Linked DNA regions of Homo sapiens. The protein of the gene in region 1 purifies or fractionates together with the protein of each later gene. This does not show direct contact. Each region holds a gene or a part of one and is shown on either strand. Other genes may lie near its edges.

Region 1 (4,240 bases):
GCCCTCATGCCCACTTCCCAAGGGCAAGAATTCCCTGGAAGTTGGCCGGGCACCATAGCGAGTGCCTATAATCCCAGCTCAGGAGGCTGAGGCAGGAGGATCGGCTGAACGTAAGAGTTCCAGGCCAGCCTGGGCAACATAGAGAGCCCTGTCTCAGAGAGAGAGAGAGAGAGAGAGAGAGAGAGACAGAGAGAGAGAGAGAGAGAGAGCGAGAGAGAGAGAGAGAGAGAGAAAAGGACGGAGGAAGGGAGGGAAAAAATTTTCTGGAGGAGCCTGGCCCTTCATTCTTCTTGGCACAAATGCTTCTCAGGCCAGTTTCCCCCAGGGCAATAACTACCTCCTTCCTGCAGACAGGAGTCTCCCTGAGGACACACCCCTCACAGCCCCAGCCTTTAGGCTCACAGAGCTCCATCTCTTCTCTGGGACAACCCCAAGGGAGCTTGGTCCCGGCAGAGCTTGCTCATGCAGTTGCCCAGTGTCCCACATGCTCAGGGCTCCTCTCGTCTTCTGACGCCCCTTGGGTCTCCCTGGCTTTAAGGCCCCTTCTCTCCCTGTAACCAGGCAGTGTGTGGCTGGGCTCAGAACATCTCTGCCTGGGTGGGCCGTGGATGAGCTGCTCCAGGTTAAAGTTCTGGGGCGAGTTGAAACAGTAAAGGGAGAAGGAGCTGGTGGGTGCCCCTGATATCACTCCTGGAATTCCCCCACCTGGAGGTGTCCAATGCACAAGGTCAACAGAGTCAGTTCTGTCCACTTTAGAAGTCTGGCTGAGACCACCTGTTAGCAATTAACCTTTTCCACAGGCAGAGCAGATATCGTTTTTCAAAGACAGGATGGAGGGCACAGAGGTGAAGGATACTTGTCCACACTTGAAGTGCACAGTGCTATCACCACTACTGGTGACCCCTGGCTCGGGAATGAGCTCAGTTGGTTTTCTGAATGTTTGTCAATTACTCTGTTTCCCTAAAGTTTGTGGGGAGGACTCCCACAGTCTGCCACAAGCAAGCATCACCATCTCCACTTGCTACCTACATCTGGACCAGTGCTCCCCCTCTGCCCCCAGGCCTGAGCTCATCCTGAGCTAGTGATGCCAGTGTCCAGAGCACATGGAGTGACCCTCTGAGTGCCGAGTGCTTAGGCAGAGCTGCCGTGCTCTGAACTTGAGCTCTGGTGGGGCTCCCAGCTCCATCATGCATGGTGACTAGGGGAAAGATGGGGCTGGCCCAGGACTCATGCTGAAAGAGAAATTCAATCTAACAAGGCCCATATTAATTATATTAACCCGGGAAATATGATGATGAGCAAGAAAGGAGCTTATGATTCATTTTATGAGAAGGATAAGCTCCCAAGTCATTACAGCATAGGAAGAACTCTAGAGCCACAAGAGATGCTTCCTGATGTCAGGGGGTTGGTGAGGAGAATATCATGCCAAGCTGGCCAGGTCAGGGAAAGAAGGTGACATTCATGTTGATGTTGAAGGAGGTATAGGATTTCAGCGGAGCAGGGATGGAGCAACAGGGAGAGAGAGAGGACAGAGAAACAGCATAAGTGAAAGCAGAGAGGCGGGAAATAATCTTCATAACAATAGTCACTTATAGAAGACCTATCAGCAAATGGACTGTACTGTTCACATACAGATGCTCATGGTAGGATGTGTCTAAGATTCCAATGGAGTGAAATTTTCCTGTGGCAGGCCAGATGGAACTAATCTAGAAGAACTCAGGTGGTGGCAGGTTCAGGAGGCTTAGGACTCAACTCTTACTTAAACTTTGATTAGCTATGGTGGGATGGATTTGAGCAGAACAAGATGGGATTGCAGATGTGCTTTAGGAGGACTTGCCTAGCAGATGTAGCAAAGTCTGAAAGGAAGAATCTGGGAGTCCGGAGTCTTAAGCCTGGAAAACCAGAGGAATCGGGCATCATTGACAGAAGTAGGAAAGTCAAGAGCAGGCTTGGATGATGCAGAGCTTAGTTTTCTGTGTGTTTGGAATCATCAGGCAGAGAGGTCTAGCAGATAGCTAGAGATGTGGGTTAGCAGAGTGTTGAGGGCTGGAGAGGAATGTGTGTAGAGAGATTAACTGGAACCCAGCAAGAAGTGAAAACATGGAGGGAAGAGTTCAGAACCAAGGACAGAGCCCTCGGGGCACCTGCATTTAAAGACAAAGGGTAGGAGGAAGACATTGATCAAGGTGCTGGAGCAGAATCAAACAGGTGGAAGATGAGAAGTCAAGAGCCATGAATGTTTCAAGGAGGAGAGCAGAGCTAGAGAGGTGGAGGAGGACCGGGATTGAGAGGAGGCTATTGAACTTATCATTCACAAGGTCACTAATGAAGTTCAGAAGAGCAGATCAACAGAGCAATGACAGCAGAAGCCAGAAGAGAAGAGTTAAGAAAGAGTAGACAGATGGCAGACAGCAGGTGCAGGAGAAACAAACAGTGGCTTCTCCATGCTTTGAATTTTCCCTTCTCCCTTACTCCCTTTTTTTCCCCTATTCTTCCTTTCTTTTTTCCCTTTATTTACTCATTCATTCAATAAACTTTTATTGTGTGTCTATGGTGCATTGTTCTGGGCATTACAGATAAGGACTTAAACTATGCAGAGTCCCTACTCCTTTAGAAGGGAAGTCTAAGATGTAGACTAACAATAGCGATGCGGTGTGTTAGAATTTGTGTCAGGGTTCTGCACAGTGCTCTGTGGGGGCACAGAAGGGAGGCACTCCCATGAGGGCCAAGCGGAGAAGGAAAATTGAGGGCTTGAGTTATAAAAATAGGGCAGAAGACTGGGGGATGATTGTCCCAGACAATGGTAGGGAAGAGTCATAGAGCATGGTGGATACCAGGACCTTCAGGAGCTACGTTACCATTACCATGTGTGCAGAGTGCATGTGAGGGAGGAGTGAGATATGGGGCTGGAGCCTCAGTCTGAAAGGGCTTCATGGCAGACCAAGAAGTTTGAATTGTGTTCTGGAGGCCATAGGGAGCCCCTGGAGGTTTTAATTTTTGAAACTTTTATTTTGAAATGATTATAGGCTTAACATTGCAAATATAACATAGAGTCCTGTGAATCCTTCATCTAGTGTCTTTCAATGGTGATGTATTATATAACTGTAGGACAAGACCCAAACCAGGAAACCAGCATTGTTACAATACTGTTAGCTAGACTGCAGACTTTGTTCAGTTTTCACCGTTTTTAACATACATTGGTTTATGGATATGTTTGTGTAGAGTTCCATGCAATTTTACAGATCCAGGTAACTACCACCCCCGTCAAAATACAGAACCAATCCATCATCACAAGGATCTCCCTCATGCTGTCCCTTGTATTTGCACCCTTATCCCATTCCTGTCCCCTGGAAACCACTAATCTGTTCTCCATCTCTACAGTGTCATCCTTTTGAGGACAAATGAAATTATGCAGTATGTAATATTTTGAGATTGACTTTTTAATTCACTGAGCCTTGAGATCCATACAAGTGGTTGCACTTACCACAACCAATAGCTGATTCCTTCCTATTGCTCAGCAGGATTTCATTGCATGGGTGTAAAATAATTTGTTTAACCATTCACCCACTGAACCCAAACAAGACATGTCTGTGCAAGTAATGGCTGCTGGACTGTGACCTCTGAGTAAAGGATAGGTGTTTCAGGGCCTCATTTTTATTCTTGGGACCATATGGTGCCCCCAGCAGGCTTGGGAAGTGACCTTCTAAAGTGCACAGATGGGCCTGCAGGGATGCTGTGTGGGCCAGCTCCAGGCTGCCATTCAGAGGCAGAATCAACTCTGCTCTCTGGCCTTGTGACTGGGGACCAGGTGGCTTCACCCCTTCACGTCCCGCTATTCTTATATGTGACATGAAGGCGCTACATTATGATTCTTCCACAAGGCAGTTTAAAAACATGGCTGCAAATTTCTTGATACTCCTTCCATGAAGAGTTGTGGCTTAGGTCCCCTCCCCTTGGGTCTGGCTGGGTTGTGACTGTTTCAACTTGTGGACTAGAACAGTGTTTCTCAACATTTTTTCATTGTTATCCTAAGATAACAATGAATATCCCTAAAAAAAGAATATCCCTAAATATCTCCCCTCATGAAATGTTAATACCAAAGATGTATTGTACATCCATCCATTCACCTGTCTATCTATCTATCTATCTATCTATCTATCTATCTATCTATCTACCTACCTACCTATCTATCTATCTACCTATCTATCTATCTATCCATCCATCCATCTATATCTCTGTT
Region 2 (3,500 bases), on another chromosome or scaffold:
TGACAGGCTTGATGCTGGGGGCCACAGGGCCGACTGAAACCCAGATCAAGAGAGGGCTCCACTTGCAGGCCCTGAAGCCCACCAAGCCCGGGCTCCTGCCTTCCCTCTTTAAGGGACTCAGAGAGACCCTCTCCCGCAACCTGGAACTGGGCCTCACACAGGGGAGTTTTGCCTTCATCCACAAGGATTTTGATGTCAAAGAGACTTTCTTCAATTTATCCAAGAGGTATTTTGATACAGAGTGCGTGCCTATGAATTTTCGCAATGCCTCACAGGCCAAAAGGCTCATGAATCATTACATTAACAAAGAGACTCGGGGGAAAATTCCCAAACTGTTTGATGAGATTAATCCTGAAACCAAATTAATTCTTGTGGATTACATCTTGTTCAAAGGTACTTTGATAATGTTCTGCTCTCCCAAGGCCACAGGGCCCTACGATTGTCTCTCCCTTTCCTTTCGTTAGGCCAGCATATGATTAACGCTACGTGATTTTCTATGAATGTGTTTTCACGTTTCAAAAACAGATTGATACACATATTGAACAGTGCCAGACGCTGTCATTTGAGGCCCTTCCCTGGTATCCTATGTGCTTGTAGTCCTTATTATTTTCAGAGCACTCTACATAGCTCCCCTCTGACACTTAGAAGCATAGGGTCTTTCCAAAAAACAGGGGGCTGGGGGATTATCTGGGGGATTTAGGATTGCATCATTGCTCCTTCATTTTTACTTTTTGACCAACTCTCTGCCCTTAGATTCCTATTATAGAAAATAGGGACACTCCACCTACTACAGTGTTAGAGGCTAAATGAGACAATGAATGTAAAGTGCCCAGATGGGCTTGGCACATAGCAGACACTGAGTATCTATTGTTTACTTGTTCTTCCAAACTGCCAATCAGCAGGTAGAGCAGGAGTTGTCTCCTTTCTAAAGATGAAACCAGCTCAGAGACGTTAGCTTGATCAAGGTCACACAGTAAGTGGCAGAGGCAAAACCCAAACAAGGGCCTCCTGACCCCCTGATCCTAGGTTCTGTCCAGCCCTGCCTCCCTAATGGGGCACTGGACGTGGGTTGGATGCCACTTTCGCAGAGCTGGCACCAGACTTACAAAGCCCCGGCAGGGGAAGCCACTTTACAACCAGCCAGGCCACACCCCCAGGGCAGACGTTTATGTAGAGAGTAATGTACCTGCCTGCTAGTAGCCTCTGCATTGTGGGGCCTTCTCTCAGAACCACACTAAACAGTGGGTGGGTGAGAAGTGTCACTCCTGCCACCTTGGACTCTGCATGTGCTTGTGCCTGGTGTGAATGAGACAAAGTGGCAGTCAGAGGTGCCAGGCAAAGGCTTTTCTCTAAGCTGGAGCCAACTATGAGGGAACGACTGTGAATTCCGTTCAGGTCCAGGACAATGAGAGGAGCCAGGGATTGTTAGGAAACATTTCCCTGCTTTCGTGTGCGATTCCCAATAGGGCCTGCGAGTGGAGCTGCATTTTGCTAGCTGGGCTAGAGGACGGGGAAAATTTTGGGGAAATTTATTTTGCCTGCCTGAGCTGTGGAAAAGCCAACCCAATTAGGGAACGCCTTTCCTAGTTGGAACGAGAAGACGAGAAGTGAGAGAAGTGAGATAGAAGGCTCCCTCTCTATTATTTGAGCAAGAACAATGCTTTTCAAAGAGGGAATTTCTGCAATGAGTTCTTCTCTTACTTGTTCAGGGAAATGGTTGACCCCATTTGACCCTGTCTTCACCGAAGTCGACACTTTCCACCTGGACAAGTACAAGACCATTAAGGTGCCCATGATGTACGGTGCAGGCAAGTTTGCCTCCACCTTTGACAAGAATTTTCGTTGTCATGTCCTCAAACTGCCCTACCAAGGAAATGCCACCATGCTGGTGGTCCTCATGGAGAAAATGGGTGACCACCTCGCCCTTGAAGACTACCTGACCACAGACTTGGTGGAGACATGGCTCAGAAACATGAAAACCAGGTACAACTCTTGCCCACACCCTATACAAACTCTACCTTTCTGTACTGGCAAACGCTCAGCACAATTTCATTGAATGCACCGTGATTTAATGTCTCCTCCAGTGAGCTATAAGTTTCCTGAAGGCAGGGCAGCATTTGTCTTTTTTTCCACTCTATCCCCAGCATCTGTCACAGGGTGCCTGGCTGATTCATTCATTGAGTCCATCAGTATTTTACGTTCTGCGACTGTGATAAATATATGATGCCAGGGATCCATCAGCAAACAAAACAGGCAAAATTAGTCTGCCCTCATGCAGCTTACATTCTATTGAAGGAAGACAAAGAGTAAATTAAAAATAGGTAATAATGCAGGGAAGGGGACAAGAAGCATCATCAGGATGCAGATGGAGGTTAGACAAGGCCTCTCCAAGAAGGTAACAGTAAGCAAACATCTGAAGATGAAGGATAAACCATGTGGATATATTCGGGGAGAGAAGTGTTATGTTACAGGCAGAAGTGTACAAGTTCTGGGATGGGAGTGTACCTGGTGGGTTTGAAGAACATCAAGGAGACAAGTGTGGCTTCAGCAGTTGGAGATAAAATCAGAGAGGAAACAGGGGCCCAGTCCCCAGAAAAGACTTGGGCTTTCCTGAGAGAGGCAGGAAGCCACTGGATGGTTCTGAGTAGAGGAGCAACCTGATTTTGACTTCTGTTTTTAAAGGATCACATAAGCTCCTGTGTTGAGAAAAGACACTAGGGGGTAAGGATGGAAGCAAGGGAGAGTGGTTAGAAAGTTACTAGCAATCCAGGTAGAGATGCTGCTACCTGGACTGCGGTGGTGGTAGTGGAAGTGGTGAGAAGTGGCTGGATTCTGGATCTATTAGGAAGTGCAGGATCTGCTAATCGATTGGATGTGGGTGAGAGAGGTGTCAAAGGTGATCACAAAGTTTTTGGCCTTAGCAACTGGAAAGACGGATTTGCCATTTACTGAAAGGGGGAGGAACAGGTCTGGGGTAAGTGCAGAAGTTCAGTCTTAAACACTTGGATCAGAAATATCTATTAGACATCCAAGTTGAGATGTCAAGACGACAGGTGGATCTGGAGTCTAGGGTGAGGTCCAGGCCGGAGATATAAATTCGGTCATCAACACAGAACTAGAATCTAGACACATGACAGGGTTGGGGTCTGTAAATATAGAGGAGAGGAAAAGAAAGCACAGAGTGGGCACTGAAATGTCTGCCCAATAAATTAATCCACCTATTGGAGTACAAGGAAAATGGCTGCAATACGAATTCCATGGCTATGGCTTCTGAATCCTGTGACTCAGATTTTGGCAGACAAGTGCAGCTAAAGGTCCCCAGGGTTAGTTTTATCTTCATTATTCTTCTTTCATTTTTCTTCATATCTTTAGCACCTAACAATGAACCCCAAACATCATAAGCCCTCAAGTAATGTTTGCTGAATGAATAACTTTTTAAATTAATCTTCAAGACACGTCATGTCCTCAATTATTTTTAAATAAATAAAAAAATTTTATTT
Region 3 (3,500 bases), on another chromosome or scaffold:
GAGTGCAATGGTGCTATCTCAGCTCACTACAACCTCCGCCTCCCGGGTTCAAGCAATTTTCCTGCCTCAGCCTCCCGAGTAGCTGGGATTACAGGGGCACACCACCACATCTGGCTAATTTTTGTGTTTTTAGTAGAGGTGTGGTTTCACCATTTTGGCCAGGCTGGTCTCAAACTCCTGACATCAGGTGATCCACCTGCCTCGGCCTTTCAAAGTGCTGGGATTATAGGTGTGAGCCACTGTGCCCAGCCGACAGTTTGTTATTTCTTGCAATTCTTTGGGTTAACTGAGCGCAGTGGCACTTCTACATTGCTTGGTATAGCTGGGGTCATTTAGACAGCTGCATTCACCTGGGCCCTCAGCTGAGACTACAGTGTCCAAGATGGCCTCTTACCTATGAGAGTTTCTCCTCACTTGTTTTTTTATCACTTAGTTGTCTAGCTCAACCTTCATTATAGCATGGTAGTCGGCTTCCAAGAATGAGTGTTCCATGGGAAAAGATCCAATGTACAAAGTTCTAGCAAGCCTCTGCTTGCATCACACTTGGTAATATCCTGTTAATCTAAACAAGTCACAAGGGCAAGCCCAGTTTCTGTGGGAGGGGAGCATTGACACAAGTTCCTGAATATGGAAAGCGTGGTCCAGTGTAACAGTCTTTAACACAATTGACACACCACTCCTTGTAGTAATAATTCTATTTAAGATTGATATCTGTGTGTATATTGTATGTGTGTTTTATTAAAAATATTTTCCCCTAAAGTTAATTATTTATAGTAAGCTGTTAGGTGCAAAGAATTGCATAGGAGTCTGTATATTTCTTAACATGGATGAACTTCATTGTCTCAAAAAAAAAAAAAAAAACTACCACAAAAATACCAGCATATTTATTTCTCTTTTGAGATTATAGGAAGGAAAAATGATGGAAACATACATAGGGATAGTGCTGAATTTGCTATTTAAATAGTTTTTCATAATTTTATGGTTTAGTGTCAATTCCTAGTTTATATAACAACTAGTGAAAAAGAATGACTGGGAGTCCAGAGACCTAGCTTTTCTTGTTCAGGTATGGATAGTAATATATACATAATAACTGACATTTTATAATGTAACAATTTACCTGTTTCACAGTTTAAAATCCTTGAAATGAGATTACATGATGTAATTGCTGGAACCTTACATTGTAGTTGGCAGTGATACTTTCTTTCTTAGTGGCACATAAACTAATGGTGTGTCATTTTTGATATTTTAGATTCAGGGAAATACAGTAATTTTCTCAGTGGCATTAGATAAATTGCTTAATTTCTCTGTGCCTCAGGATGTAGAAATACATGACATAACTTCCAAAGGGAATAATGAAGAACTGTAGAAAATACACAAATGTATACTTTCCATTTTTTTAAAAAACAGTGAAGGTTATAGATTATAAAAAACAATGTTTTATATAAGCTTTCAAATGTACATGTTTATATTTTAAATGGCAATATTTAGTATTTACATATAAAAAAGATCATTTATACTGCTTACATTTCAAATTCCATTATATATCTAAAGTGGTAACATCTTTGGATTATTTTTGAAAGACCAGTGGCAGGAAGGATTGATTATAAAAGAGTTTGCTTGAAAGTACCCCTCTCAACCCTTCTCATAAGAAAATTAAACCCTGGCCTGGGCGGCTGCCTCCACGATGCCACTGCTCATCGAGGGGCAGCGAGTGCGGCTGCCACAGTCCGCCGGGGACCTCGTCCGAGCCCACCTGCCTCTGGAGGAAACAGCCAGATGTATCAGAGGTCAGTCTGTTCAACAACTGGGACCCCAGGGCCTTCTGTATGTTCAGCAAAGAGAGCTCGCAGTGACCTCCCCAAAGGATGGCTCCGTCTCCATTTTGGGTTCTGATAATGCCACTACTTGTCACATTGGGGTCCTGTTGCACACAGGTTATGGCGCCACCTGCTTGACACATTGTGATGGAACCGACACCAAAGCTGGGGTCCCCTTGATCATGAACTCCATAAAGTCTTTTTCCGACTGCGCTCAATGTGGAAGCCTGGAAGTATACCTCGTGGGAGGCTTCAGTGATGTGGGAGGCAGTTGTCACAAAAACTCACTCATTAACTTCTTAGTGAATTTGACAGGCAAGAAGATGACATTCACTTAGTGATACTATGATTATGTGTGACAGAATTAAATGACCAGGAAGAAAACGAATAACACTTTCTAATAATATATGGCATTGCTGTCAACTTAAGACTGCAAAGATTTACAGAGCCTCCTTTCTTTTTTTTGTTTGAGACAGAGTCTCCTCTGTTGCCCAGGCTGGGGTGCAGTGGTGTGATCTCGGCTTACTGCAGCCTCTGCTTCCAGGGTTCAAGTGATTCTCCTGCCTCAGCCTCCCAAGTAGCTGGGATTACAGGCGCCCACTGCCACACCTGGCTAATTTTTATATTTTTAGTAGAGACAGCGTTTCACCATGTTGGCCAGGCTGGTCTCAAACTCCTGACCTCAAGTGATCTGCCCACCTCAGCCTCCCAAAATGCTGAGATTACAGGCATAAGCCACCGTGCCTGGCCTACAGAGCCTCCTTTCAAGATCGAGGTCCAGAGGAGCAGCTGCGTGCCGCGTGAGCTTTAGCAGGAGGACCAGTGATTAGCATTTACGATGCAAAGACAGAACAACTTCGTATAGGACTGTACTCCTGGACACCATTTCCACATGTGGATTTCTGCTTGCAGCAAGATGACAAGCAAATACTAGAGAATCTTTCCACTTCGTGTCTGGCCGAGCCACCCCACTTTGTTGAACATATTAGATCTACCTTGATGTTTTTAAAAAAAAATACTGCTCCAACTAACACACTGTTTCCTGGAAATAAAGCCCTACTCTACAAAAAAAATGAAGATGGCTTGTGGGAAAAGATCTCTTCTCCAGGAAGCTAAAAAAATAGGAATTACCAAAGAAAGCAGAACCTTCTTGGCCTGACAGAGACCATTGGTGGGGCCAGCAAGAATCCAAATTTGGAACCTACATCCATTGGGTCTTAGGTCTTCTCCTTCCTTCCTCAGTGTTTTTCAAATGACTTTCAAAATAAAACCTTATTTTGGCAAAGGCAAAAAAAAAAAAAAAAAAAAAGGAAAATTAATTAAACCCTGATCCCCCCAGGCATCCATTGTGATGAATTAACTTCCTTCCTATGCATCTAGAATGGGACTACAGTATTTCTGTATCATTCTTAGGAAATAGAAAAAAATAGTTACTTACACAATTTTTTTGTAGGGCTTAATTTTTAGTGGAACTCCCAATTGAGAAAGGTTGCTTAGAGCATAAGTTGCATATAAACATGTTAAGATACTTATTTATTTTTTACCACAACCTTATGAGTTAAGTACATGACTTTTCCATAAAAGAGAAAAAACTCAGTTGTGGTAAGAATATAGATCTTGCAACCAGTTCAAGGTCATTAAGCTGTGACTTGAATCCTGGCAGTCTGGTTTCAGAGACCATGC
Region 4 (3,500 bases), on another chromosome or scaffold:
TATGAGGTAGGGAGTTATTACCCTGATTTTCAAATGAGGAAATCAAAACCTACAGAGGTAATGACTTCCCCGAGGCCATCGGGGAGTGAGAGGTGTATCTAGGAGTCACAACCAGGTTAGGTTGGCCCCAGGCCATCACTCTGCTGTGGTGCTGCTCCATCACCTCCAAACCAGCTCCTAACAAGTTTATTCATTCATTCATTCATTTATTCAGAAAATGTGTAAAGATCATCCAGCCACTGTGTGTGAGGTGCTGGAATATACAGATGAATATAATATGGTCCCCACCCTCTGTGGTCAATGGAGAGAGAGAAATAAGGAAGCAGGCAGTTACAGTCAGCCAGGAGTGCTGGGAGAGCACAGAAAAGGGCACTCGGCCAGTCCCAGGCAATCCAGGAAGGCCTCTGGAAGGAAGCCGCGAAGTTAAGATAAGGAGCCATTAGCCATGTGATGGGTTGGGCTGGGACAGTAGAGGAAGCACTGGGAAAGTTCAAGGAGGTTAGTGTACCTGGAACATGGAGCGGACTGGTGAGCAACTGTGTTGCAGATGCAGGTGCCTTGTCCTTGGCACAGTAACATCCTGGGGTTTTGGGTGTAGAGCCTGGAGAGGTAGCAGAGGGCTGGCCCATGTTTATCTTGTGTAGTGCTTGGGTGGTGGGTGTTACAGAAAGGCTTAGGGTTTCCACATATTCTTCTCTCTCCTCTTGGCCATTTTTTATGATTATGACTGATATATTAAAAGCTATATATAATGCATGCATAGTGCCTAAGGAATAATGAGGTCTCACATGCCTAGCACCCCACGCTGGCCTCTGTTTGCAGGTGACTGTGGGAAAACACCTGACTGCTCGTGTCCTGTGCCTCATAGTGCTGCCCCTGGCTCTCTATACAGCCACCTTTGCTGTTCACTTCATGGTGCTGAGTAAAAGGTACAGACAGAGCCTTTGCAGCATCTTGCTTCTGGTTTTCCTTTTGCTCCTAAGCCTGTGGAGGGGTCGGATGATTTTCTGGGTCTGTGGTTAAAATGATAGGTGAGGGACCCCAGGGGCTTTTTCCTGTTTCTTTCCTGCTATGTTCTATCCTTTGGGTATATGCTAAGGGCTCAGAAAGGCCAGCACCCTAACCTGAAGGAAGAAGCTATTTTCGTTATAGCCAAATTGTCCCTTATCTCTAAACAGAGTCCCCTGTACTTAGCAAGGATAGGCCACAATAAGATGTGCAGTAGGAGTGAGTGTAACAATAACAGTAACTCCGGCGGCAACAGCTCCCACTTAATGAGTAGCTACTGAGAATCAGGAACTGTGTTCCGCATTTTGTACACATTATCTCATTTAATCAGAATCACTTGTGACTTCTCTTGGTTTCTTTAAATCTCTAGTTTATAAATGAGGAACTAAGGCTAAACAAGGTTATCTTGCCCAAGGTCGCACAGCTAGTAAGTGGCTGAGTTGGGATTTGGACCCCAGTTTCTCCAACTCCATCACCCACCTCTGTCCCATGATCTGATTCTACTTTCCTTAAACTATCTGAGCAGAGCTCTTCCCAGCGCTCCTGGGAAATCACACTTTCACTCCTTTAACTTGACTCTCTTCTGCTCTTCCTCTCCCCACAGTGGCCCTGGTGACGGTTTCTTCAGTTCTGCCTTCCAGGCCCGGCTTTCAGGGAACAACCTGCACAATGCTTCCATCCCTGAACGTGAGTGTCTCTGGGCCATTACAAAGGTAGAAGGCAGAGGGGTGTCCTGGGAGTTGAATTGGAAAAGACAAATATGATGGCTTTGGGTTATTTTAGCCTGTGATGGCACGGTGGGAGAAAGACCCAGATAGATCTGGTGAAAATACTCGAGAGTGAATCAGGACAGAGGAGAGGAAGACATCCTGAGCAGCAAGCTCTCTGACCCTAAAGAATGACTTCTCCTTGGTGGCTCTCCAAGCCAGCTCTGTGGGAAGGTCACTCAGAGAGAATATGGTGACAGCACCAGGCCCTTCAGAGCCAGTTTTTGGTTTCCCGCACCGCTTTCTGAGTGTTGCATTCGTTCATCTATGACAGATGGTAGTGGAGCGCGTGCTCACCCTCCAGAGATGGAGCCTGGTGTAGAGGAGCTCCACACGGTGTGGCTGGAAGCGTTAAGTACGTAAAGAGGGAGCACAGCTCTGGGGATTGACAGGCGTGAAGGAGCATGGCTGCTGGGCGGTTAAGGGCATCAGAGGTTCGTGATGTGGGTTGCCTTGGAGTCAGGCCCTGGAAGAATGTGTGGCTTTCAACAGAGGAGAGGGCATCTCAGGCAGGAGGGATGACATGATCAAAGCTGAGGACAGAGTAAAACTTGAGGCACAGGTATATGCAGAAAACTACTGGAAGATAAATGTGAAAAGTTAGGTTGGGCCCAGACTATGAGGGTTTGAGGTGTCTGGATGAGGTATTTGACTTCCTAAAACAGGCCGTGGAGACCTAGTGGAGGTCTTTGAGCAGCCAGGAGGCCAGGAAGGCTGTGCTATAGGGAGATGACATGGGTGGGAGAGTCGAGGCTGGCTGGGGAGGGGACAGGATTGTAGGCAAGAGAAACCCTCTGGGAAGCTATTGCAGGAACCTGAGCTGGGTATGGTGGGGCAGCCACAGGGTAAGGCAAATGGGCATATACAAGGGAGATCTGGACACAGCAAGAGAGGAAGAAAGATGTCACTAAGGACTTGAGTGCAGGTGATTGCTTCCTGGAGGCAGAGACTGCATCTTACTCATTTTAGTCTTTCCAGGACTTTGCACAGTGCCTAAAATACAGCGGACTCTCCCAGACTGGGAAGAATGAGAAATAGGGAAGCAGGAGAAGAAGTTGGGTTGGAAGGGCAGATACTGAATTCCACGCGAGAGGGGTTGATAGTGAGCTGCTTGGGGAAATTGTTGCCATGGGGCCAGTGGGATTTGGGGCTGATGCTTTCAAAGGAGGAATCAGACAAGTAAAACGGTAATTGATGCTGTGGCAGTAGCTGTGATTTGTAAGGAAACTGTAGAAAGAGGAAAAGAATAGAGCTGAGGTCAGATCACTGGGGAATGCAAGAGGAGGAGGAATTAGGAGAGGAGACTGCGGAGGAGCAGCCCTTGAGAGAGTGTGCGGTCGAGAAGTGGGAACAGAGAGCATTTCAAGAAATAAAGGTGGTCAGCCATGTGCAGGGCTGCCGAGGTTGGCCTGCCTGAGAACTCAGAAGAACACAGCTGTGGAGTTTAGCAAATTCCTGCTCATTATTTAAAGGCCTAGTTCAGCTGTCACCTCTTCGATCAAGTCGTCCTCTCTTTAATCCTTGGGAGAGAATTTGGCCTGTTCCGAGTTCCCACCATTCCCACCATGTCACACATTGTCACGCCTTTGTGGGGCACTTGCCCACTGTCCTATACTTGTCAGTGTGTGAAGCCATCTTCCTTGTAGACAGGGCTCTTCCAGGGCCACAGGCAGGCCTCCTCCACCTTTGGATCCAGTGTGTAATTCTTCTGGTCCACTGAATGAA

What was found.
Region 2: the proteins of CD300E (region 1) and SERPINA10 purify together in Homo sapiens (affinity purification with mass spectrometry; one large-scale study listed by BioGRID and IntAct). This does not show direct contact.
Region 3: the proteins of CD300E (region 1) and RMDN1 purify together in Homo sapiens (affinity purification with mass spectrometry; one large-scale study listed by BioGRID and IntAct). This does not show direct contact.
Region 4: the proteins of CD300E (region 1) and POMT2 purify together in Homo sapiens (affinity purification with mass spectrometry; one large-scale study listed by BioGRID and IntAct). This does not show direct contact.

What each region holds. Positions count from the first base shown.
Region 1 is NC_000017.11:74,608,194-74,612,433, reverse strand, and holds the end of CD300E (CMRF35-like molecule 2 precursor), read left to right. Parts: 3' UTR 1-2,549; downstream 2,550-4,240. UniProt on the Homo sapiens protein: Probably acts as an activating receptor.
Region 2 is NC_000014.9:94,286,769-94,290,268, reverse strand, and holds part of SERPINA10 (protein Z-dependent protease inhibitor precursor), read left to right. Parts: coding exon 1-393; intron 394-1,709; coding exon 1,710-1,983; intron 1,984-3,500. UniProt on the Homo sapiens protein: Inhibits activity of the coagulation protease factor Xa in the presence of PROZ, calcium and phospholipids. Also inhibits factor XIa in the absence of cofactors.
Region 3 is NC_000008.11:86,481,187-86,484,686, reverse strand, and holds part of RMDN1 (regulator of microtubule dynamics protein 1), read left to right. Parts: intron 1-3,500.
Region 4 is NC_000014.9:77,296,884-77,300,383, reverse strand, and holds part of POMT2 (protein O-mannosyl-transferase 2), read left to right. Parts: intron 1-822; coding exon 823-929; intron 930-1,612; coding exon 1,613-1,695; intron 1,696-3,500. UniProt on the Homo sapiens protein: Transfers mannosyl residues to the hydroxyl group of serine or threonine residues. Coexpression of both POMT1 and POMT2 is necessary for enzyme activity, expression of either POMT1 or POMT2 alone is insufficient.